Linked DNA regions of Homo sapiens: regions 2 and 3 are each linked to region 1. Evidence: fine-mapped QTL for protein levels in blood plasma. A gene starts in region 1. Each other region holds a variant in brackets. All regions are shown on one strand. Distances are from middle to middle. Region 1 holds the start of CPA4 (carboxypeptidase A4). Region 2 overlaps CPA4 (carboxypeptidase A4). Region 3 holds the start of LOC124901837 (small nucleolar RNA U13).

Region 1 (8,000 bases):
GTTGGGTTGTGTTGTTTATTTTTCTAAGCCTGATCTGGCAGCACCGTTTCTCCAGTTTCTGCTGCCCTCAAACACAACAAGTCATGGCATTGTACCCCTTCATCTTTTAGAAAATCCATCCTGGGGCCAGGCGTGGTGGCTCACCTGAAATCCCAGCACTTTGGGAGGCTGAGGTGGGACGACTGCTTGAGCCCAGGAGTTTGAGATCAGCCTGGGCAACATGGGGAGACCCCATCTCTAAAAAGAATAATATTAAAAAAAAAAATCCATCCGGAGCAGAGTGCTCCCAACATCATTTGACAGTTTTTGTTTTTGTTTTCCTTTTGAGACAGAGTCTCACTCTGTCACCCAGGCTGGAGTGCAATGGCGCGATCTCGGCTCACTGCAACTTCTGCCTCCCAGGTTCAAGCAATTCTCCTGCCTCAGCCTCTCAAGTAGCTGGGATTACAGGCACCTGCCACCATGCCTGGCTAATTTTTGTAGTTTTAGTAGAGACAGGGTTTCACCATTTTGGCCAGGCTGGTCTTGAACTCCTGACCTGAAGTGATCCACTCGCCTCGGCCTCCCAAAGTGCTGGGATTACAGGCGTGAGCCACCGTGCCTGGCCCCATTTGACAGTTTTTTATTGTGTTAAATTATACACAAAACTTACAATTTTGACCATTTTTAAGTGTACAATTCATTGGCATTAAGTACATTCACAACGTTATGCCACCATCACCATCATCCATCTCCAGAACTTTCCTATCATCCCAGACTGAAACTCTTCCCCATTAAACCATAACTCCCCATTCCTCTTGCCCTTCAGCCCCTGGCAACTACTAGCTACTTTCTGTCTCTACGAATTAGCCTATTCTAGGTATTTCGTATAAGCGGAATTAAACAGTATTTGCCCTTTTGTGGCTAGCATTTTTTTTTTTTTTTTTGGTTAATATAATGTTTTCAAGGTTCATCCATGGTGTAGCATGTGTCACTGCTTCATCGTAAGAGTGTAGCATTTTAGGGCTAGCAATGGACTTTCAAGTTCATGTATTCAATAAATACTCATGAAGCAACTGCACTGTGCCAGGCCTCGTGCCAGGTGCTATACCTGGTTCCATTGTTGCCTTTGGTTTTTCCTTTCCTGGTGTGCTGCTTTATGAAGACTTGTGGGGCAGGGCATGGTGACTCAGGCCCGTGATCTCAGCACTTTGGAAGGCTGAGGTGGGAGGATCAGGAGTTTGAGATCAGCCTGAGCAACACAGTGAGACCCCGTCTGTACAAAAACAAAACAAAGCACCCGTCATGGTGGCAAACATCTTTAGTCTCAGCTGCTTGGGAGGCTAAGTTGGGAGGATCACTCGAGCCCAAGAGTTTGAGACTTCAGTGAGCTATGGTCGCACCACTGTACTCCAGCCTGGTCGACAGAGTGAAACTCTGTCTCAAAAAAAACAAACACACAAATGGTGGGGACCCAAGCCAATGACATTCCTTTTTCCTGGTTGCCCTATCAAGCCTCGGTCTCAGGTTGCACACAGTTTCTCTTTAGATATTGACTCCCATTAGGGATTTAGGTTTTCTTCATGTGGATGATTTTCCCTGGGAGAAAAGGTAGGAACTAAATTTCAGCTTGCCTAGAATGCTTGGTCCTTGATTCTCCCACTTCACATCTCTTACAGATTTGGGTCTCAGTTGTTCTTGTTGCTGACTTCAAAGCTGACATCGATCTCAGTGACGCTGAGCCCACGCTTTGTGGTGGACAGGGTGGGTGTAGGAATTCAGTTGAAGTGTTGAGAGGACAAAAGGACCCTGAGGGAGCAAGAGGAGATGATGGCCCCTAGCTCCACAGCTCCTAACAAAGGCTCTCTCTGGGACCACACTTGAGATTCTGCACCCTCCTTTTGATTAGGCTGGTTCTTGAGCCCTGGCTAAGCCAGCCTGAGCAAAGATCCTGCGAAGTCATCCCTCCCACCTTGATATCTGATCAAGTTCCTCATCCCCACCTTTGATGGGGACTTTGATGTATAAGTCCTTGGCCTGCTTTTAGCAAGAATCCCCCTACCTTGATGTCTTCTCTTAGTAATCCCACTGATCCTCTCTGTTTTCTTTGCCGTATTCAGTGTTAAGCACAGTAAGTCTTTCCTACTGAAATAGCCATGGTCCTAATCATAATAATCTTGAATTAGGTCTTACATTTTAACACAGGTCAGGATAGTTTTTCTTTAACTCTCTCAACTATGACCCTTGGTTGTGTCCACTCCCTTTGAGTGGGTGTGGAAAGCATGTAGACCGTAGGGAGGGTGGGATGGGAAAGGCTGTGGGAACTGGGGCTCCCAGGACAGACTCAAAGGTCCCAGAGCCCCTGAAGGCGTTATGGAGATATGAGTGTCTTCCATTTATTCAGCTGTGACTTGGCGGAAAGGACACCAGACCCACAGTCTAGGAAGTATAAGAAAATCTTATTATTTATTTATTTATTTATTTGAGATGGAGTCTCACTCTGTCGCCCAGGCTGGAGTGCAGTGGTGCGATCTCGGCTCACTGCAAGCTCCGCCTCCCAGGTTCACGCCATTCTCCTGAGTAGCTGGGACTACAGGCGTCCGCCACCACGCCCGGCTAATTTTTTGTATTTTTAGTAGAGACGAGGTTTCACTGTGATAGCCAGGATGGTCTCAATCTCCTGACCTCGTGATCCGCCCACCTCGGCCTCCCAAAGTGCTAGGATTACAGGCATGAGCCACCTCGCCCGGCTGAAAATCTTATTATTGATAAAACCATTAAGCCTTCCCCATAGATCAGACCCCAAGGAACACTGATAATTTATTCAGACTAAAACATCCTTTCTATATCATTTGCCTGATACATTTCTATTTCCTTAGTGGAGTCAGAAGAATTAGGCTTCAGATACATAAAAGAGGCCCCAAACCTCTTTCCTCATCCTGACCTGCCCTGGTGAAATTCTCTGGCAGGGCTTGTCAAGCATGTGGTCTTGGAGCCAGCTCAGTCTTGCTTTGATAGTCTTAACTTTTTTATTATTATTCTAGAGGTAATTCTATGCCAGGTTTATAATCTGACCTCTCCTATCAGGATAAATTCCATCCAACACTGTGGAATTAGCTTATTCACTGAAAAAACACTATTTAAATGCCAAGTGATGAGCAATATGGTACCCTTGGCACAGACTTTTTCAGCTCCTGGAGCAAGTTCCTGACCTTGTAAATTGAGATGCTCAACCTTTATCACTTGAAAGGAATGGGAGAGGCATTGGTAGGGCCTGCCTGTCACAGTCAGAGTTGCAAGGGTGCTTGGGAATCACATTAGCATTTTTGAGGACTTGAGTCACTCTCAGACTCTTTATAAATACAGCTTGACTCAGCCACTGTATGACTGACTCCCCGGGGACATGAGGTGGATACTGTTCATTGGGGCCCTTATTGGGTCCAGCATCTGTGGCCAAGAAAAATTTTTTGGGTAAGTTCCTTTTGGACTTATTATTTGGTTATTTCAGAAATATGGGAGCCAAATGGAACTGAAAATGAATGGCTGATAATAGCTCACATGGAGGAAGAAGACCTGGGCTCTTGTTCCAGCTTTGCCCCTGTGTCATCCTGGACAAGTCCACTCTCTTCTCTGAGACCCCATTTCATCTGTGAAATCAGGACTAGATGATCATTGCAGTCTCTCCCCAGCTCCCTCATCTCCTGCCAGTTCTTTTTCTGCCTAGTTCTTACTTATAAGGTCAGTTCCAGGCATCTACTTTCTTACTCCTACCTTATTAATTACTAAGAGTTACTGGTTACTAAGAGCTACGTTATTAATTACTAAGAGTTACTGGTTACCAGAAATGGTTTGTTTCCAATTTCCGCCATGCATAAAGGGAAACCCTGGGTCTCAAGCTTGTTGGTTTCACTTCTTTGTTAATGGCGAAGGCTTTGCAGAGCTGGTGCCTTCTCTTGATCTGCAGTTTAATGCTCTACCCCTGAGCTACACCCTCTTCTGAGCTGGTGCTTTCTTACTGGCTTCTGGGACGTGGAGATTTCACAGGTCTTGCCTAGACACAGCTATGAAAATGACATGCAGAGACACATGCCTGAACACCGTGTGTGTGTGCGCGTGTGTGTGTGCACACACACACGTGCTCAACACGCTCCATGCAGAATACTTTGAGGTTTGCAGGGGAGAGGACATTTGGGTGGTAGGAGAGATAAAAGGGATACCATGGTGCCCTGTTAGAAGACTGAATTATAATAACTCATTACTGCATAATACTTTACCATTTGCAAAGAGCTTTCATGTACATTATCTTTTTGATCACACAACAACTTTGCCAGGCAGGGGTGTTATTTTCTTCCACTTAAACATGAAAAAAATCAGCCTTAGAATGTTAAGGAACGCGCTCAAGGCCACTTAGCTGGGAAGCAGGGGAGCTGGAACTCTGAACGTAAAACTCGTACCCTTTTGCTATAACACAAGTTCATCTCCAAATAAAATCCTATATCTCTTGGATCTGTCTCTTAGTTTTCTTTCTATTTTACTATCTGGCTAATGAGACTTTGGGGTTGTTTTTTGAGGTAATTACTTATATGAGATTGACTAAGTTTTATGATGATGACTTCTGTTCACACCTGTGTCTCTGTTGCCAAATAGCTCAGAGGGGTTAGGAGTGGCAGGTGGCCAGGGAAGATTTTCCCACAGGCGGCTCAGCAGTAGGTGTGTAGTGACTAGACTTGCTGCCGTGTGGGCTGACGCATGGAACTGTCAGGCTCCCACTGCAGCTATTCATGTGGCTGAAAAATCTCTATTTCGCAAGATACAGACCTCTCTTGCAATGTGGTGGGCACCTGGGCTGCGACAGCTGGGCCAGGCCCTAGAATGCTCTCTGCAGGAATTTTGCACAGAAAAAGCTGTGTGCCTGAGCTGACTGCAGATGGTTTGAACTGATAGTGTCATTCTCATCCCCAAATCCATTCTCACGCCATAGTAGGAAACCTAGCAAAGGTAGTGGAATTCTTCCTGGGCTCTCTAGAGGTGTCCCAGACACCCAGCTTTTAGAGCAAGGGGAACATTTAGAGCAAGGGGAAGCTGGCCTCTGAGCATTCAAGTGGTTGGGAAGCCAGGCTCTGGATTGGCTGCTGAAGATGAGGATGATGGTTTCTCCCCACCACCCACCACCCATTCCCCTCCCTTCCATCTGCCTCACCTATCTCCCCAGTCTCTCTTGCTCTACTGGAGTCTTCTGCCCTGGTCTTCAGAGATCTTCAGGATGGGACAATGGCCAGGATGCCTAGAGGCACCAGGCAGGCAGAGAACAGGAACCAGTTGCAGAGCTGGTTACAGCATCAACAGTAGCTGGCAGGCATCTAAGAGTTCTATGAAACCATCTCTTAATATTCTTTGTGGTGGCTGCTAAGCCTGGCTAGGGAGGCAGATGAGAAAGGCACAAAGGACGGGCCACTTGGCTGTCAGCATGGTGAAAGGGGAGGGATAGATGCTCAGTCACCAAAGTGGGTATTGACTGTCCAAAGCACAGACTCCTGTGAGGGTGAGGGAGTGGGAGTGCCAGCCATTGCAATGGCAGCAGCTGGACGCCCTGTCTATTGGAGAGGATCAAGTTAAGAGGAGCTGTGAGAACACCTGTGTGGAGCAGGAGGGGCAGACATGGCCACCTGTGAATCCCAACACGTCCCCCTCCCAGGCCAATTTCCATCTTCAGAAAGAGCTCAAGGTCTTTGAGTGAATTTCTGGATAGTGGAGATAGGATGTGCTCCACCATCTTGAGCCTCATGAACTGACGAGGGCATTTTTCAAATACAGACAAGGACAGTGAGGGCAAGAAAAAGGCTGCCCTTCGCATTGCACCCCGCAATGTCCTCCCTCCTTTCAGGTGTTGCTGTGCTTCTGTTCATAAGGATAATGCTACCGCTGGGTGCAGTGGCTCACACCTGTAATCCCAGCACTTTGGGAGGCTGAGGCAGGTGGATCACCTGAGGTCGGGAGTTCGAGACCAGCCTGACCAACATAGAGAAACCCCGCCTCTACTAAAAATACAAAATTAGCTGGGCGTGGAGGTGCATGCCTGCAATCCCAGCTACTTGGGAGGCTGAGGCAGGAGAATCACTTGAACCCCGGAGGCGGAGATTGCAGTGAGCTGAGATCGTGCTATTGCACTCCAGCCTGGGCAAGGCAACAAGAGCAAAAACTCCATCTGAAAAAAAAGGATAATGCTACCCACTACCACAACCGCCAATGTTCAGCACTATCTGAAGACTGTTAGGACTTTGCTTCCTCTGGTCAGGAAAAGCTTCATGGGTGATGTGAGTTGGTCCTAAAGATTAGATGGGACTAGATGGGCCTGACAGATGAGAAAAAGGATGGATTGCAGGCAGTGGGAACAGCGTGTACAAAAGCATACAAAAGTACGCGGTGAGTTTGGGCTGGGTCCGAGATGGGGCAGAAGGGAGAGGTGAAGAAGAGACAGATGGAACGGGCTTCACTCGGCACCCGCTCTTCTGCCCTGCCGCTTTGCATGCTACAGATATTTTGTTGACCTCTGTAGCTTGGCTGATTAGAGCAGGATGAAATGGGTTTGTGGATTTAATCATCCTCAGGGCCAGTCAGAGACACGGTGTCCCATTGTCCTGGGACTGCGCCCAGGAATGTCTACAAGTTCTGTTGTGAAGTCACCACTTTGGAAAAACTAAAACGCATGTGTTGGGTGAATGCGTAACATGATTTTCATACTCAAAGAGCTTCTTATTCTTATGTCCTCCTTTTTTCTCCTCCTGTCCCTTCTTTCTCCTTTTCCTCTTTGTGATTGCTGTAGCCAGTGCTGCATTTTACACACGCTTAACTGTGCTAATAAATATGTCACCACACAAGATCTTTCTAGCAGCTCCCCTCACTTTTTTTTTTTTTTTTTTTTTTTTTGAGACAGGGTCTTGTTCTGTCAACCAGACTGGAGTGCGGTGATGCAATCATAGCTCACTGCAGCTTTTGAACTCCTGGGCTCAAGCAATCCTCCTGCCTTAGCCTCCCAAGTATAGAATCCCCACTTTAAAGATACCCCCTCTTTGGAGTGTTGGAGGTAGGTTATGATAGAGCGTGAGTTCAGCGGACGGGCCCTTGTCCCCATCCAGGAGTAAAGATTTCCTTTCTGTTTTTTAAATTTATTTATTTTTAATTTTAGTTTTTTGAGATGGGAGTCTTGCTCTATTGCCCAGGTTAGAGTGCAGAGGTGTGATCATAGCTCACTGCAGCGTTGAACTCCTGGGCTCCAGCGATCCTCCTGCCTCAGCCTCCTGAGTAGCTGGCCTACAGGTGTGAACCACCACGCCCAGCTAATTGTTTTTCATTTTTTTGTAGAGGCAAAGTCTCACTATTTTGTCCAGGATGATCTTGACCTCCTGGCCTCAAGCAATCCTCTCACCTTGGTTTCCTGAAGCACTGGGATCACAAGTGTGAGCCACGGTGCCTGGCTCCATTCTGTCTTACATCGGTCCCTTTTTTTCAATGGTGCTTGCCGAGGTCAGGGAACGATCAGGTTTGATGCCTCATCTTCCCAGGGCGGTAGGTCCAACTCTTGGCAAGCCTGTTGGGTTCAGACTGAGACCTGCCCACCCAGTGGTATCTCTTCAGGGCCCTCGGCAGTGCCCACAGGGTGCAGTTACCCGCTGACCTCCAGGACCCTTTGGGGACCAGGTGGGTTGGGAGAAAGGGAACCTTCAGCACTGTCATCTCCTCCAGACCAGCCACCTGCAGCAGGAGTGGCTCTGCAGTGGACCTTGACTCCTTAAGTCTGGCCTAGACCCACTGGAGAGCCCCTAGAACCTTCCAGAACCCAGCAAAACCCTGAAGAGCCATCTGGATGAAACCGGTTTTCTGATGAGGAGCTGCCCCATGAGGCTGCACACTCAGCTCCCTGTGACAGCCATTCACTCTCAACAGGTCCTTGAGCCCACAGCGGCTCTCTTTGCATTCACTTGTGTCAAAGAGATGACACAGTGACAACATCGAGTGAGGAT
Region 2 (8,000 bases), 15 kb after region 1:
AATTTCCAAATATTTCTAACAGATTCAAGACTGTATTGGCAAAGAGGTAGAGAGCTATGATAATGACATAAATTACATAAAAATCCAGTTGAATGAATAAGAAGGAATTTGGGCGTATAACCCATGGAACACCAATGGTGCTAAGAATTTGCCAAACCCTCAGCTTCGTATAAGTCCCAAAGAACTCAGGCTTATAGCACTAAGCAAATTACCAGTGGGAGAGGAGACCTGCCACGGAGCTGGATAATTACATTTAAATATTTTTGCCAATCTGTTGGAGACCCTGGCTTCATTAGCACCAAGCTCTGACCCAAGGGGGCCCAACACTATGGCAAAGGCAGGAGCCAGGATTCATGGCTGCCATTTACAAAGAGCTATAGCGAGCCCCCCTTCTTCTTAGTTTAAAACCAAATTCATTTATCATGTCGACCGAAACAGCCTGGTTTGTGTACCCTTATGTCTCTCGCTGTTGGGATACCATTTGAGGTCTTTCAAGAGACATAACATTATCTCTAATGGCACCGGCATCATAAAACACAGTAACGGTTGTTTCCCCTCCCATTTGCTCCTAATGCTGGAGAGGTTCAGGCTGCCTGGAGCTGCAGCTTGGCCCCGCAGCCAACCAATTAAGCTTCCAAGTCACGGATAAGCTCGATAAATAGATGGTGCCCTTAGGAACATTTGATCTCTGAATTATCTTAAATGAATTAAATGAATGGGAGAGAGCTGGAGAGAGGAGAAGTGAGCAGAGATGCGGGCAGGCGGTCATTTTCGAGCCTTTTCTCCCTTCTGCAGTTCAGCACTGGGAAAGGCGTGAGGCGGCCGGCCGTTTGGCTGAATGCAGGCATCCATTCCCGAGAGTGGATCTCCCAGGCCACTGCAATCTGGACGGCAAGGAAGGTCATGCTGCGTGGTATTAGCCAGGAATGCTGATGGTGCCGGGGTGCCCCTGCAGCATGCCATGTGGCTGGGCCTGGGGCACGAGGTGGGAGGGTTCTCTACTAAGACCCAGTCGGCTGGGGGGCCTTTTCAGATTGGAGAAGCAAATGGTCAAAACCCCTTGGTCAGCTCACTGCGGCCAAATTGATTGCGTTCCTGGTGGTGCACAAGCTGATATGCAGCAGAGGTGGGCCTGAGCCTCTGAGAGCAGTCCACTCCGCAGAAAGGGAGCAGAGCAACACCCAGACAAGGCCCCATAGACCCTCGGGGACCTCACGCCATCTCCATCTCCTAGAAAGGCTGCTGGGAGGGCAGCAGGAGGCTGAGGCAGGAGAATCCCTTGAACCCAGGAGGCGGAGGTTGCGTTGAGCCAAGATCACGCCACTGCACTCCAGCCTGGGCAACAGAGCAAGACTCTGTCTTAAAAAAAGAAAGAAAGAAAGTCTGCTGGGAGGGGAGGAGGGGTGCATGTGGAGGACACATCTTCCTTCCCTCTTCATTGGAGGTTCAAATTCCTAAAAACTATTACAATGTGTGGCTCCCTCCTCCTGGAAGGAAGGAATAAAGCACGTACCCCAGGACTCACTGCAGTTGATGCCATTAGCAGCCATGTCCCCAAGCAGCCGTGTCTCTCCAGGCTTTGAAGGGCTCAGAGGGCTTTGCAGAGAGCAGAGCCTCTGAGGGTGGCAGGGAGGCTTTTGAGGGTGGATGCTGTTCTAGGAGCATTCATTCTAGCTGGTTGCTGGGCATCTTGAGAAGATACATGGTTCAGCCCTAATGGCCCATCCTGCCATGGGATAGCTGACAAGCATATTGTCTCTGCTTAGATTGTATCTGATTACCAGAGGGATCCAGCTATCACCTCCATCTTGGAGAAAATGGATATTTTCTTGTTGCCTGTGGCCAATCCTGATGGATATGTGTATACTCAAACTCAAGTGAGTATTCCCAAATGGGCTGGGCTTGCAGACTGTTGAATTCCTTGCTTTGCCACTAATTGTCTGATCTTGGAGAGAATTTCCACAAATGTGCACCTTATGAGCTTCCTTGGGATTTCATCTTCTAGTCATCCTCAGAGCTGAGAATCACCAGGGGATATTTCTTCTTAGAGAAAATAGTCTAATGAACTCCCTATCATGAGTCTTAACAATGACCAACATTTTACAAATCTTTTCATCTCTTGCCCTCCCACACATTTTTTCGTGACGTATTTAAAACATATTCAACACATTATGTTATTTCACCCTAAACTACTTTAGTACGCATCTCTAACTGACGATAGAAAAAAAAAAATTAAAAAACCCTATGGCACTACTATCACTTTTAAAGGAATAATGGAAGTTCTTTAATATCATCTAACACCCCCGATTACCTTAAAAATGGAGGCCGAGGCCAGGCGCGGTGGCTCACACCTGTAATCCCAGCACTTTGGGAGGCCGAGGTGGGCGGATCATGAGGTCAGGAGATCGAGACCATCCTGGCTAACATGGTGAAACCACATCTCTATTAAAAATACAAACAAATTGGCTGGGTGTGGTGGTGGGTGCCTGTAGTCCCAGCTACTTGGGAAGCTGAGGCAGGAGAATGACGTGAACCCGGGAGGCGGAGCTTGCAGTGAGCCGAGATGGCGCCACTGCTCCAGCCTGGGCGACAGGGCAAGACTCCATCTCAGAAAAAAAAAAAAAAAAAAGTGTTTTTAAGAGTCAATTTGTTCAAGTGAGGACCCAGCAAGGTCTGCGCATGCACCTGGTGCTGTGTCTCTGCAGCCTCTTTTATTCTACAGCAGCTCCCACACACACCTTTTAAAAGTCTCACTCATTTAGGGGAGAAGCCAAGTAATTTGTCTTGTACAGTGTCTCACATTCTGAATTTGGCTGATGGCTTCTTTGTTATGCCATTTAGTTTGTTCCTTTATCCCCTGTATTTCCTGTTCATAGATTGCCAGGTCTAGAGCTTGATTGGATTCAGGGGAATTTTTTAGGCAAGCAAGAAACAGGGGCTGTGCGCTTCCAGCTACATCTATTATCACCGAGGCATATAGTGTCCATTTGCCCACTTCTGCCAAAGCCAAAAATTATTCAGTGGATTCAGGCAGTATCTGACTGGTTCTAGCATATAAAGGTCTCATCAGTACATTTGGAAGAAGTCCTTCTCTTAGAGCCGGAAGGGGAAATACTCCTCTCTCTGCAGGAGGAGAGACAACTGCTCAATGAGGACTAGGAGCCCCAGGGCCCTCCTGGCAGAACTGCAAGCAGCCTGCCCTGCCTGCGTGTCATCTCCACCCTAGCCCTCTTCGGTGATCTGATCTGCCTCTGGTTGTTTGTCCCCTCCTTGGTGGCTTTTTCAGAACCGATTATGGAGGAAGACGCGGTCCCGAAATCCTGGAAGCTCCTGCATTGGTGCTGACCCAAATAGAAACTG[G/A]AACGCTAGTTTTGCAGGTAGGCGGTGGGGAGACAGTTCTCAAATCCTGCTGTCCCTGGGCTCGCCTGGTCTACCAGTGCTCTGAGCTGGCCGGGACGGAGCGCGTTTCCACTTTGGTTCCGTTGCTGCGTCACTGAGAGACTGAGGAGCACTCCTTAGGCTCTGACTTAGTGTTTTGTTTGTTGTTGCTGTTTTGAGATGGAATCTCACTCTGTCACCCAGGCTGGAGTGCAGTGGCGTGATCTTGGCTCACCGCGACCTCTGCCTCCTGGGTTCAAGTGATTCTCCTGCCTTAGCCTCCTGAGTAGCTGGGACTGCAGGTGCACGCCACCACGCCCGGCTATTTTTTTTCAGTAGAGATGGGGTTTCACCATGTTGGCCAGGATGGTTTTGATCTCCTGACCTCATGATCCACCTGCTTCAGCCTTCCAAAGTGCTGGGAGTATAGCCGTAAGCCACCTAGCCCAGCCTTTTTTTTTTTTTTTGAGACAGAGTCTTGCTCCATCGCCCAGGCTGGAGTGCAGTGGCAGGATCTTGGCTCACTCTCACTGCAACCTCCGCCTCCCGGGTTCAAGTGATTCTCCTGCCTCAGCCTCCTGGGATGACAGGTGCATGCCACCATGCCCAGCTAATTTTTGTATTTTTAGTAGAGACAGGGTTTTGCCATGTTGGCCAGGCTGGTCTTGAACTCCTGAACTCAGGTCATCTGCCCGCCTCAGCCTCCCAAAGTGCTGGGATTACAGGCATGAGCCATCGCATCCGGACTGTTTGTTGTTTTTTAAAATATATTTTTGTGATTTTGAAAGGGAATGATAGTGATGTCTGTCTTCCCGAGAGAATGGTGGGACAGAGCATCTTACATTGAGATTGCCATCTATGCTAATATTTTAAAAACACTCTCTTCTAAGACATACAAAACGGGGAACCTTCACCCCTGACCCTACCAGCCCTGCCTGGGCAAGTTGTGAGCAGGCGGAAGGACTCCTGGCAGCAACTCAGAAGAGAGGAATTAGCACTGTCACCCCAAAGGGCAAGACTGTGCTGTGAAAATTCCACTCCAGTACCCTTAGATGTGTAGATATGAACCTTAGCAGCTGGCTGTCATGGAAAGGGAAAGAGAATTAGGAGACCTGGGCTCTGAGTGCCAGCGATTTAAAAACCACCCTCCACAGAAGTGCCGACTGTGTACTAAGTACCTTCCGGTATTTATCATATTTATTCTTCTCACCTAGCGAGTGAATTTTATGATCTGAAATGAGACGGTGGAAGCTCAGAGACAATCTCAAGATGACATGGGTGAACAGAGTTCTGATCTAAACTCAGCTTCCAATTTCAAATCCAGACAGTTCTCTTTCACTGTCCCATGGCTGTACTGATGGGTTGTTTGTTTGTTTTGTTTTGTTGAGACACGGTCGTGCTCTGTCATCCAGGCTGGAGTGCAGTGGCGTGATCATGGCTCACTGCAGCCTCGACATCCTGGATTTAAGCAATCCTCCCACCTCAGCCTCCCTGGTAGCTGGGACTATAGGCGCATGCCACAATGCCGAGCTAAGTTTTGTATTTTTTTGTGAAGATGGGGTTTTGCCATGTTGCCCAGACTGGTCTTGAACTTCTGGGCTTAAGTGATCCTTCCACCTCAGCCTCTCAAAGTGCTGGGATTATAGACATGAGGCACTGTGCCCGGCCCCGATGGTTTGTTTTTAATGTGCTTCTTTTACTTGTATAGAAATACCACACAAACCATTGGGGGAAAATAATGACTGTGGGAAAGGAACTGATACAAATGTGGGAACTCAGAGCTTCAAAGTTAAGTCAGATATTCCCACCACTGGGGTGGTTTCAGTCACATTCATACACACACACACGCACACACACACGTATGCACGTGTGCACACACACACCCTAGAAACCCGAGGGAACTATATTATGAAGTAATACAGAAGGCAGTGTTTCTAAATACCTGTCAAATAATCAAGAGATTTTAGCCACAACAATTGATTATTTCTGGCACACTTGGCCTTTAAGATCTCAACCAGAGAATAAGTTGACACCAGAATAAATGGAGTCATTTTCATTATTTATTGGTATTCATATTAATTATCTAGTCTACTTATTAATTACAACTCATTCTCAAGGGTGATATTAATTATTTATGACAACTGCTATTGGTACAAGGCAAGGTCAACTCCAACAGTTTTTCTCCTCAGCTGTAGCAGACCCAACACCCAACCCTCCCTCTTCCATGCCTTCTCTGCAGTCCACACCCACCATGGACTAGGTGCTCTGGGCCGTCTCGCCATGGCCTGCCCATTCCCAATACCTTCGGCCCCTCTCTAGGTGGAGCGTCTTGCATTTCTGTGTTCTTGGACTATGAGTTAATGTTTGTTCTTGGGCTATCCCCAACAGGAAAGGGAGCCAGCGACAACCCTTGCTCCGAAGTGTACCATGGACCCCACGCCAATTCGGAAGTGGAGGTGAAATCAGTGGTAGATTTCATCCAAAAACATGGGAATTTCAAGGGCTTCATCGACCTGCACAGCTACTCGCAGCTGCTGATGTATCCATATGGGTACTCAGTCAAAAAGGCCCCAGATGCCGAGGAACTCGTGAGTCACAGCTGCCTCCCACCCAGCCTGGGGCCCGCCTGACCCTCCTGGCGCTGCTAAGGTGGTAGCTCTGCAGCTTTATAGGGAGGGTCCAGGAGCCTAGGCATGTTTCATTGAAGGTCCAATCTTCTCTCCCTGCCCTTTGGGATATGCTGTCATCTGCTGGGGACAGGAAAACAGTGCCCTTTATTTCTGTGTCTGCTATGAGTTCCCAGAACCGTGCCTGCCCCGCCTTTCCGTCTCCCTTGTTTTTCTGACTGCCATGTATTGTGGACCCACTGCTTGCCAAGGACTGTGGGTGGCACCTGGGTGGGCAAGGGGGAGAGATCCTCACTCTAGTGAAAGAAGAGTTTAAGGAGGGCGAAGGCCACAGCCTGGGGTGCTCTGTGTCTCATCCAGAACGTGGGCCATCAGGAGCAGGCCTGGCATCTGGAGGGTGACTGCAGGTGGCTGCCCAGGCTCACAGCCAGCCCTTAAACCTCAGGCAGATGCAGCCCCTCCCAGGCTCACGGCAAAGTGCGGGCTTGATTCTGCTCCCCCACCCCCACCCGGCCTCTCAGGCAGGCACTCTACACAGGGATCATCCACCTATGGCGGTCCTTCTCCTCCTCCACTCTGCAACACCCAACTCTTTGAGAGCTTTCTCTTGAGCATATTTGGCCCTCCCTCATGTGTGCATGACGTCTCCCTTCTCAGGATAGGTGAAGACGGTGGTGCCTTTACTAGATTCCTAGTGGGTCAGTGAGCAGCCCCAGAACCCCCATCTCTTCCAATCTGAGTACATAATGCACAGGCTTCCACTTCCCTCCTCATCTCCTCCCCCAAACTGGGAGTCAAGAACTGGGGGTGTGGTGGGAGAAGGAGTTGAAGGAACCATGCCACCTCCCTCAGTTTACAGTTGGGCCTTGGCACTGGGCGAAGGGGAAACAAGGGACCAGAAAGGAAATCGGGGGGGGCTGAGAATCTTCCAAACCATCCCAGAGCAGAGCAGCTGAGGAAGGTCAAGCTTCAGGATCGATTTTTTCTCACTCCACGGATTCCCCCTTCCCAGGACAAGGTGGCGAGGCTTGCGGCCAAAGCTCTGGCTTCTGTGTCGGGCACTGAGTACCAAGTGGGTCCCACCTGCACCACTGTCTGTAAGTACTCGCTTATTTATGAGTTATTTAGAAAGCACTTTGAGAGGAAACTTGAAATGGAGTGGGAGGAGGGCTGTAAGTTAGACTTACTTGTCATCTGATTGTTTTTGTTGTTGGTAATAGACTGAACTACATCATGCCTGTGTGGTGACAGCTGTTGCATGCAGTCCCCTTCATCAACATCATATCAAAAATTCCTCATGCCCATCCCTTCATTTTCAAGGGAAACCCACCTTTCAGTTGGTAAACTGATGGTGGTAGTGGAGTTGGGGGAGACTCCCTCATCTTCCTAAAGGAGATGGACAAACATTGAGCCTGGACAACATAGCAAGACCCCATCTGATATGGTTTGGCTGTGTCCCCACCCAGCTCTCATCTTGAATTCCCACATGTTGTGGGAGGGACCTGGTGGGAGGTAATTGAATCATGGGGGCAGGTCTTTCCTGTGCTGTTCTCATGATAGTGAGTAAATCTCATGAGATCTGATGGTTATTATAAGGAGGAGTTTTCCAGCACAAGCCCTCTTCTTGTAAGAGTTAAAGAAAGAGGAAAGAAACACAAAAAGCAGCTTAGCAGTCAAAGACAGGTTTATTCTGGGAATAAACCTGAGAGGGGCTTCTGGCTGATTTCAGTCAGGAGTGTTCTGTCTTAGAGACTAAGGGTATTTAAGGGTTTAGGGAGGGGGAGCTTATCGCAGGCTCAGAATGTTTCTGTGTGAAGGAGAGTTTTATTTCCTGGGTTGGAATATCTCTGATCAGAGCGGAGATTGTCTTGGGGTTGGCATGTTTCTGGTTGGAGGGGAGGTTTATCTTAGAGTTGGAATGTTCCTGGTCACGCTGACATTACCCACTAGGCTGATGTTTGGGGCTAGTTTTTAATCAAGGGGAACTTAAAATGG
Region 3 (8,287 bases), 47 kb after region 1:
CTCACGCCTGTAATCCCAACACTGGGAGGCTGAGGCGGGCAGGATCACCTAAGGTCAGGAGTTCGTAGACCAGCCTGACCAACATGGAGAAACTCCGTCTCTACTAAAAAATACAAAATTAGCCAGGCATGGTGGCGCATGCCTGTAATCCCAGCTACTCTGGACGCTGAGGCAGGAGAATCGCTTGAACCCAAGAGGCGGAGGTTGCGGTGAGCTGAGATCGTGCCATTGCACTCCAGCCTGGGCAACAAGAGCGCAACCCTATCTCAAAAAAAAAAAAAAAAAGTGAACTTTGATCAAAAAGTGGTAAAACTTTTGCCCACTTTTTCCCAACCAGACATGAGGTTACAGAGGCAGAACCTTGCTCATAGTGGTGCTCAGTAAATAGCCTTTCGCTCCATAATACATAGCTTTCAAGGACAGTGAAATTCTGCAACATCTATCAACGTGAATTTAAATAAATTTTAATTTTAAAAATCAGATTGTGCCATCCAGCACTATGTGAGAGAAGAGGTACTTATAGAAACAAAGGCACGGTGGTGTGCAAGTTTACAAAATAAACTGATGTAAGAACTCTAGGCAGAATTCTTCAGATTTTTTTATCCTGCACTCCTATAATTTTTTAAAAATCTGGCTTGTCACACCCAACATATGTAATTATATATTTATAAATTCTGTACAAATGCCACTGTACTCATATTATATATTTTATAAAACATAAAAATTAAAATAAAAAGGACAGAATAAAAATATAGCTTATAAGTCTTAATAGTTTCTTCCTTTACCCCCTGGTAGGAATGAATGCCTCACTTTGGAAATCACTGGATTTGATTGAAAATGCTTCTAATTCTCGACTCCGACTTACCTTGAGCTGTCTAATAGATCTGAATAATCTCATAAATGAATGCCTGCCTCTTTAAGTAGACCGGATAGACAAACTATGGCCCGCAGATCAAATCTAGCCTCCATAGCCTCCAAGCTAAGAATGGTTTTTACATTTTTAAATGTAAAAAGACTCTTTAGGCTGGGCACAGTGGCTCGTGCCTGTAACCCCAACACTTTGGAAGGCTGAGGTGGGAGATAGCTTGAGCCAGGAGTTCAAGACCAGCTTGGGCAACGTAGCAAAACCCTGTCTCTATGAATTTTTTTTTTTTTTAATTAAAGAAAAAAACAGACTCTTCAGTGAGAACAGTTGCTCTATCTTACCTTCTGGACCCCAAAGCCTAAAATATTTATTTTTTGGCCCTTTCCAGAAAAAAATTTGTTGGCCCCTGGACAGGGAAAGCATGTGGGTCACCTTTACCTTTCCTCTACATGGTGAGGCCTTTGGAAGCTCTGCACAGGGCTGTAAATGTGGCTCTCCAGGCCCAAGGGGCTGGCCTTGGCTGCAGCTGCATCCCTTCCTTGGCCTGTAGGTTACCAACCTACTGTCTCACTGGGAGCAGGCCCTCAGCCTGTGCTCTTGGGCACCTCATGGTGGTCATTAGCTAGGTCCCAGATGACCAGGCATTAGACACCCACCCAGGGAGCCCGCAGCCCCAGCCCACTTCCTCCCAGTATCTCTGAGGTTTGGCAAGTGACATGTCCTGGCCAGCCGTTCCATAGCTCTTGCTGCCCTGTGGCTGGTCGGGGGGTGTCTGGCCTCCATCCAAACACCCAGCTAGTGGGGAAGGGGTGGTGTAGTACAGTTGAGAGGAGGCCAGCTGGGTGCCCGGATGGAGACAGCCAAGTGGCGGAGGGTTGCCCAAGAGTCTATCTTCAGCTGCTGGGCCTACATCTGGGCAGGGGCGTACGTCCTGGGGGAGGGGGAGGCAAGACCTTGGTGTTAGAGGCCTGCATTTGAGGATGACGCCAGGGGAGGTAGGTCCCTGGTTGTGGGGTGTGAGAGTGAGGTCCAGTAACAAAACATGGGGAGCAGCTCAGAGCAAAGGTTTAGGAGCTCTGGGCTGACGGAGGCACAGCTGAGCGGAGCAGGCAAGGGTGAAGGTCCTGGATGTGAAGGATTGTTCCCCTAAGATTTGGGGAGTCATTGGAATGAGTAAATCAACAAATCAGTCAACAAATAGGTCCTGGGCAGTGGCCTGGCTATACAAAGGGTTTCTGGGATGGTGCAAATGAATATGACACAGCCCCAGCCCACGAAGACTTTGTTTTGAGTTTGCAGATGCCTGTAAAGAATTAGAATCTATGGTGTGTGATGGAGGCACAAGGCATGATTAGCTAAACTGGGGAGATGTGGTCAGTAGGCTCAGGTTCCCTGTGGTGGGTGGCCCCAGACTGGGATTTTGCATGAGAAAGTAAATTTCAAACCTCTAATCCAGAGCGGCATTAACCTACCTTTTAGGCCTTCCATTGTTTTCTTGGATTTTTAATATTCCATTTCCTGAAAGCGCCTGCTTGGCATATTCCTGAAAGGTGGGATAAGCCTGTTTTTTTGTTAATTAAATCACATTTTGAGTGCACTAGGGGAGATTTCATTTTAAGAAACAGTGGCAAATCCTCTCAATAATCAAAGAATCCTTTTAGAAAGGGAACGATGATGCTCCTGTTGTTCTTTTTTTAAAGATTACACTCGATGTATTTATTTTCCTAAAACACTCAAAGGGGACTTTTGGAGACTAAAACATAATTTAGTTTGGAAGTTTTGTTTGCAGATGTTGGAGCACCTCATTCGATCTCTGGAGACCCCCAGGGTGGTCCCCAGCCAGACATGGGAATTAATACCTTCAACAAGGAAGGGATTCAGGGCTAGAATGAGATTTCCTGCAATCTCCCCATCACGCTTAGTCGAGTTAACTCCTTCACATCTTACCTAACTCAGCTCAAATGTTACTGTTTGGCTGGGTTTTTTTAGCTTTAATTTTGTGTAATGTGATAAAATATACATAACATAAAATGTACCATTTTGTTTTTAAGTGTAGCGTTCAGTGGCATTAAGTATATCTACACTGCTGTGCAACCATTACCACCACCCATCTCCAGGACTTTTTCCTCTTCCTAAACTGAAACTATATCCTCATTAAATAACTTCCCATTTGCCCATTGGCAACCACCATTCTGCTTGCTGTCTCTATAAGCTGGACTACTCTAGGTATTAAATGCCACTTTTACAACTTCTCTTTAATTTAAAGGGTTACACAGCACATCATATGAAGAGTCAGAGTTCTACAAGACTTGTTATAAAAAGCAACAGAGTCCTGCTCCTCGCTTTCGTGCCAGGTCTTGCTCTCTGGCAATAACCACATTGAGTTCTTCTAGCCTTGATGCTCAACATTCACAAGACTAGGTAAAGTGCTTACATTGCTACTTCTTGATTTTTCAGTTTTGGGCATTTTGGATTGATTCTCACTATAAAAAGTAAATTAACTGCCCCATATTTCCTTTAAAATATGTTTTATTGTGAAGTATATCATACGTACAAGATCCTGTATAAAACTTCAGTGGCTGTTAAAAATAAAATTAACAGCCGGGCGCGGTGGATCACACCTGTAATCCTAGCACTTTGGGAGGCGGAGGCAGGCAGATCACTTGAGGTCAGGAGTTCAAGACCAGCCTAGCCAACATGGTGAAACCCCATCTCTACTAAAAATACAAAATTAGCCAGGTGTGGTGGCAGGTGCCTGTAATCCCAGCTACTAGGAGGCTGAGGCAGGAGAATCGCTTGAACTTGGGAGGCAGAGGTTGCAGTGAGCCAAGATCACACCACTGCACTCCAGCCTGGGTGATGGAGTGAGATTCTGTCTCCAAAAAAAAAAAAAAAATTAAATTAACACTCTTACCCTATCATTCAGCTTAAGAACAAGAATGTAACATTATTCGAGTAGCCTGCACATGCCCCTCAAATGTACTCCCTTTCCTTTTCTAGACAAAACCAGTAATCATGCTAATAATTTTCTTTCTTTTCCTTATAATTACCGCATATGGACATATTCCTAAACAATATACTGTTTTGTGGATGTATATAAATGGAAACACAGTGCGTTCTGACTTGGCTTCTTTCGCTCAACATTACATTTTTTGAGGTTCAACCATGTGGATGCATGGCGCTGTAGCTGACTCCTTTTCTCTGCTCTTTGTATTCTGTTGTATGACGTCTCCATTCATTCAGCCAATCTTGTGCATATGTTCTGGTGACATGTGCAAGAGTTTCTCTCTTTTTTTTTTTTTTTTTTTTTTTGAGACAGGGTCTCACTCTGTCACCCAGGCTGGAGTACAGTAGTGCGATGACAGCTCACTGCAGCCTCTACCTCCCAGGTGCAGGTCATCCTCCCACCTCAGCCTCCGAAGTAGCTGGGACCACAGGAGCACACCGTCACACCTGGCTAATTTTAACTTTTTGTAGAGATGGGGTCTCACTCTGTCACCCAGGTTGGAGCACAGTGGCGTGATGACATTGAGTTTTCTTATTTAAGAATAGAGTATACTGTTAGATTCGTTTGGAATGTTAGCATTTTCCAATAGTTTTATAATTGTCTCCAGGAAGTATGGAGGCAAAAGCAACTCCATCTTAGATGCTAATCTGCCATGTTGACTTCTGGTTGCCCCCCGATCGGGGAAGGCCTTGGGATTTCCAGTTCGTTGTTCCTTGAGTGGAGTATGTGCTTGCCATGAATCCTGCCCTGGGGTTGGTACAGGCTTGATGCTATCACCCTTCAAAGGTCCTACACATCCCTTTGGAGTTATCCTGTCCCTATGGTGTATGGGCCATGGGTCTCGGCGGTAATGGTGCAGGAATCCACCAGCTTGTCTCACCAACACCTGAGACACAGACATGGCTTCTGCTTGTAAGTCCCTATTAAGTGTTTCTTTCTAAAAAACAGATTTGTCAGCCTCTTTCTTGGACCTCTCAGCTTCCTAAGACTTTGGGGGCAGGTTTGCATATACCTGCTTACTTCAGAACAGGGAGGATTGCACATTGCTTGTTAGAATTATTCCTGATTTTTTTTTTAAGAAGGGGTGTCCCAAGTAGCTGAGACCACAGGTGCATGCCACCATGCCTGGCTAACTTATTTCTATTTTTTTGTAGGGACAGGGTCTCCCTATGTTGCCTGGGCTGGTCTTGAACTGCTGTCCTCAAGTGATCGTCCCTCCTTGGCCTCCCAAATTGTTGGGATTACAGGCACGAGACACTGCACGTGGCTATATGCTTTCTTTTATTAGTATTTACTTGGAATATCTTTTTTCCATCCTTGACTTTGAGTCTCTCTTTCTTCTTATGTTTTAAGAGTGCCTCTTGTGAAACCATATAGCTAGTATTTTTTTCTTTTTTTTTTTGAGACAGTCTTGCTCTGTCGCCCAGATTGGAGTGCCGTGGCATGATCTTGGCTCACTGCAACCCCCGCCTCCTGGGTTCAAGCAATTCTCCCACCTCAGCCTCCCGAGTAGCTGGGATGACTCCCACCACCATGCCCAGCTAATTTTTGTATTTTTAGTGGAGTTTGAAAGTTATGTGCACTGGGCCTATTCTTCTAGTTGTTGCTCTAGCTATTTGAACACGCATATTTACCAAAATCTAAAAAATTATCAATATCTCTCCTTTCTCCCAATAATTCCAGGACCTTAAAGACACTTTAACTCTGATGACCCACTTGCAGATAACATGCTATTCTTGTCCAGGACTTAAAACTTTGGTGTTAGATGATGCCGGGGAAAATATTTCCTGAGATTTCATAACCACAAGTAAGCCCCCGACATGAATTTGTGGTTTAAGTTTATGCTAACTATGCAGTCCCCCAAAAAAATCTTAAATTATTTAATTTAGAGTGGTCGCAGGTTGGTAGTGTCCCCAGCAACTTACAGAAGTAAACGCAAATCTTTTCTGGAAGAACCCACCTTCAACCCAGGCCTCAAGGGATTCTCACAGATAAATGTTCAAGGAAAATGATTGGTTCACAGGTATGTGGCATGAGAGAAAATGCACCATGAGTGAGAACCAGCGGAAAGAATAGGCAGCAGAAACAGACTTAAAACATCTAGGAATTGTAATTATCTAACACAGAATATAAAATATCTGTCTTATACGTTTAAAGAAATAAGAAATTCTAAAATAGATAAGAAATTCAAGTCATTTGGGCTTGAATCAGAAAAAAAGAATCAAATAGAACTTCCAAAAATGAAAAATGAATATCATATTGCATTGACTATAAAACAGGATCAATTTTATAAGATGCACCATAATTTTATGTGCCACCTTAGCATTGCAAGATGCCACCAATTGTAAGATGTATCCTGATTTTAGCAGTGTTAAAAATGTGAAAAAAATAGGTTGCAGAATCAATGAACCGTAGCAATTGAAAGGTAAAACTTCACAGATCAATTAAATTGCAGATTAAACTCAGCCAATGAAGAATCAGGTAACTGGAATAAAGACAAAAATATTTTTTACTAATAAATTATCCAGAATGTAGCCCAGAGAGACCACACAATGGAAATATAGCAGAATGCTTATGAGTCTTGGGGGCTAGAATGAGGAGGTCCAGTCAAAAGTTCCAGATGAAGGTAATAGAGAGGAAAAGGGGCAATGTTTAAAAATATAATGGCTGAGAAATTTGGAAAATAATAGAAAGCGAGTGACACTCAGATACAGGAATTCAAATGATTCTCAAGCAAGACAAAACAAAAAAAATCCATACCTGGACTTACGATGATAAAACTGTGGAACATCAAAAGCAAAGAGAAGCTCTTCAAAGAAACCAGGAACAAAGAGAGGTCACCTTCTGAAGAACAGTAAGTCAACAAACATTACCTTTTAGCAGCAAAAATGGAAGCCAGAAGACTGTGGGATAATATTTTCAATGTGTTGAGAGGAAAACAGTAATCAACTTGGAATTTCTATCCCAAAAAACCCTTTCAAGAATGAGAGCAAAATAATTCTTTCTTTCTTTCTTTCTTTTT[CTCTT/C]TCTTTCTTTCTTTCTTCTTCTTTCTTTCTTTCTTCCTTCCTTCCTTCTTCTTTCTTCTTTTCTTTCTTTTTCTTTCCTTCTTTCTTCTCTTTCTTTCTTTCTTTCTTTCTCTTTTTTCTTTCTTCTTTCTTTATTCTTTTTTTTCCTTTCTTTCTCTTTCCCTCTCTCCTTTCTTTTTTTTTCTGTCTGTCCTTCCTTCCTTCCTTCCTTCCTCGCTCCCTCCCTCTCTCCCTCCCTCCCTCTCTTCCTCCCTCCCTCCCTTCCTTATTTCTTTTCTTTTTCTTTTTTTCTTTTTTTTTTTTTTGAGATAGGTTTTTGTTCTGTCACCCAGGCTGGAGTATGGTTCTCTGCAGCCTCAAAGTCCTGGGCTCAGTTGATCTGCTTGCTTGCTTCCCGAGTAGCTAGGACTACAGATGCGTGCCTCACCATGCCCAGCTAATTTTATTTTATTTTTGCAGAGATAGGGTCTCCCTGACTTGCCCAGGCTGGTCTCGGACTCCTGGGCTCAAGCGAACTCCTGGGCTCCTCCTGCCTTGGCCTCCCAAAGCACTGGGATTACAGATGTGAGCTGCCATACCTGGCCAAAAATTTTCAAATAAGTAAAAACAGAAACCTTAACTAAAGGAAGGTTTGAAAAGATAGATTTGAAGCAGAGGGAAGATGATTCTAGATACATGGTACATGCATCCAGTAGGAAAATCAAGAACACCAGCATTCTGAGAAGTTCTCTGAGGCAAAACTTGCTTACCACTTGGGTGTCTGTCTGGCTTTTCCTTCTTTTTGGGATCTATAGATTCTTATTTTTGTGCCAACCCAGCAATGGCTTTAGAAAGTTGTTACTAAAAATATTTTCTTCTGCATTTGAGTTCTTTCATTTGGGCAAGATTGCTTAGGTATCTAACCCACCCCACCTGCAGGAAATAAAAGTCCTCCAAAAAAATTTCTAATTTAGGGAAACTCTCCTTCAGTCTATGTGGAGCCCATGTTCCCCGTCCTCATGGTACAATGTGCCTTTCCCTTGTAACACAAACACCATCTATAGTTTTACACTTATCTGGAGTGAGATGGGCTACCATTATGTCTTGGGTTTACCAATTATCTTCATGCTATTTAAATTAATTTTCTACTTACGCCTTTAGAAATGTAAGGGCCAGATATGTGTTGCTTTCTATTTTGTTTCCAGACTTTAGCAAGTGCCTGGAACATAGCAGGTATTCAGAGGACATTTACTGAGTAAATGATTAGGTGAGTAATTAATTATAAGTGAAAAGCCAAAATGAGGTATTAGGTCAAGCATAGCTATGTGTCTCCGCTTCAAATCCAGCCATAAGCTGATAATTGCAGTTCATAAGTATGATAATTGGGTGCTCACGCATGCGTGTGTGAGA

What was found. PIP is the posterior inclusion probability: the model's chance that the variant is causal. The UK Biobank Pharma Proteomics Project read protein levels with antibody pairs (Olink). The fine-mapping took linkage between variants from a reference panel, not from the people measured, so its PIPs are less certain.
Region 2: its variant is fine-mapped to the plasma level of the CPA4 protein (UK Biobank, PIP above 0.99). The variant lies in the coding sequence of CPA4. If it changes the protein, the assay may bind it differently, which can mimic a change of level.
Region 3: its variant is fine-mapped to the plasma level of the CPA4 protein (UK Biobank, PIP above 0.99).

Annotation. Positions count from the first base shown.
Region 1 is chr7:130,289,799-130,297,798 of GRCh38, forward strand. CPA4 (carboxypeptidase A4) reads left to right here and starts at 3,363. Exons shown (of 11, transcript NM_016352.4): 1 at 3,363-3,450. The coding sequence starts at 3,383. RefSeq lists enhancers at 3,768-3,857, 7,668-8,000.
Region 2 is chr7:130,305,021-130,313,020 of GRCh38, forward strand. CPA4 (carboxypeptidase A4) reads left to right here. Exons shown (of 11, transcript NM_016352.4): 6 at 796-900; 7 at 1,767-1,877; 8 at 3,287-3,377; 9 at 5,767-5,966; 10 at 7,018-7,102. Among named protein-coding and RNA genes, the nearest start is that of CPA4, 16 kb to the left of the region's middle. The variant G/A (reference allele first, on the strand shown) is at 3,361.
Region 3 is chr7:130,336,182-130,344,468 of GRCh38, forward strand. All of the region lies in intron 1 of LOC105375503 (a long non-coding RNA gene), which reads right to left. It overlaps LOC124901837 (small nucleolar RNA U13), which reads left to right and starts at 8,234; the gene lies at 8,234-8,287. The variant CTCTT/C (reference allele first, on the strand shown) is at 6,895.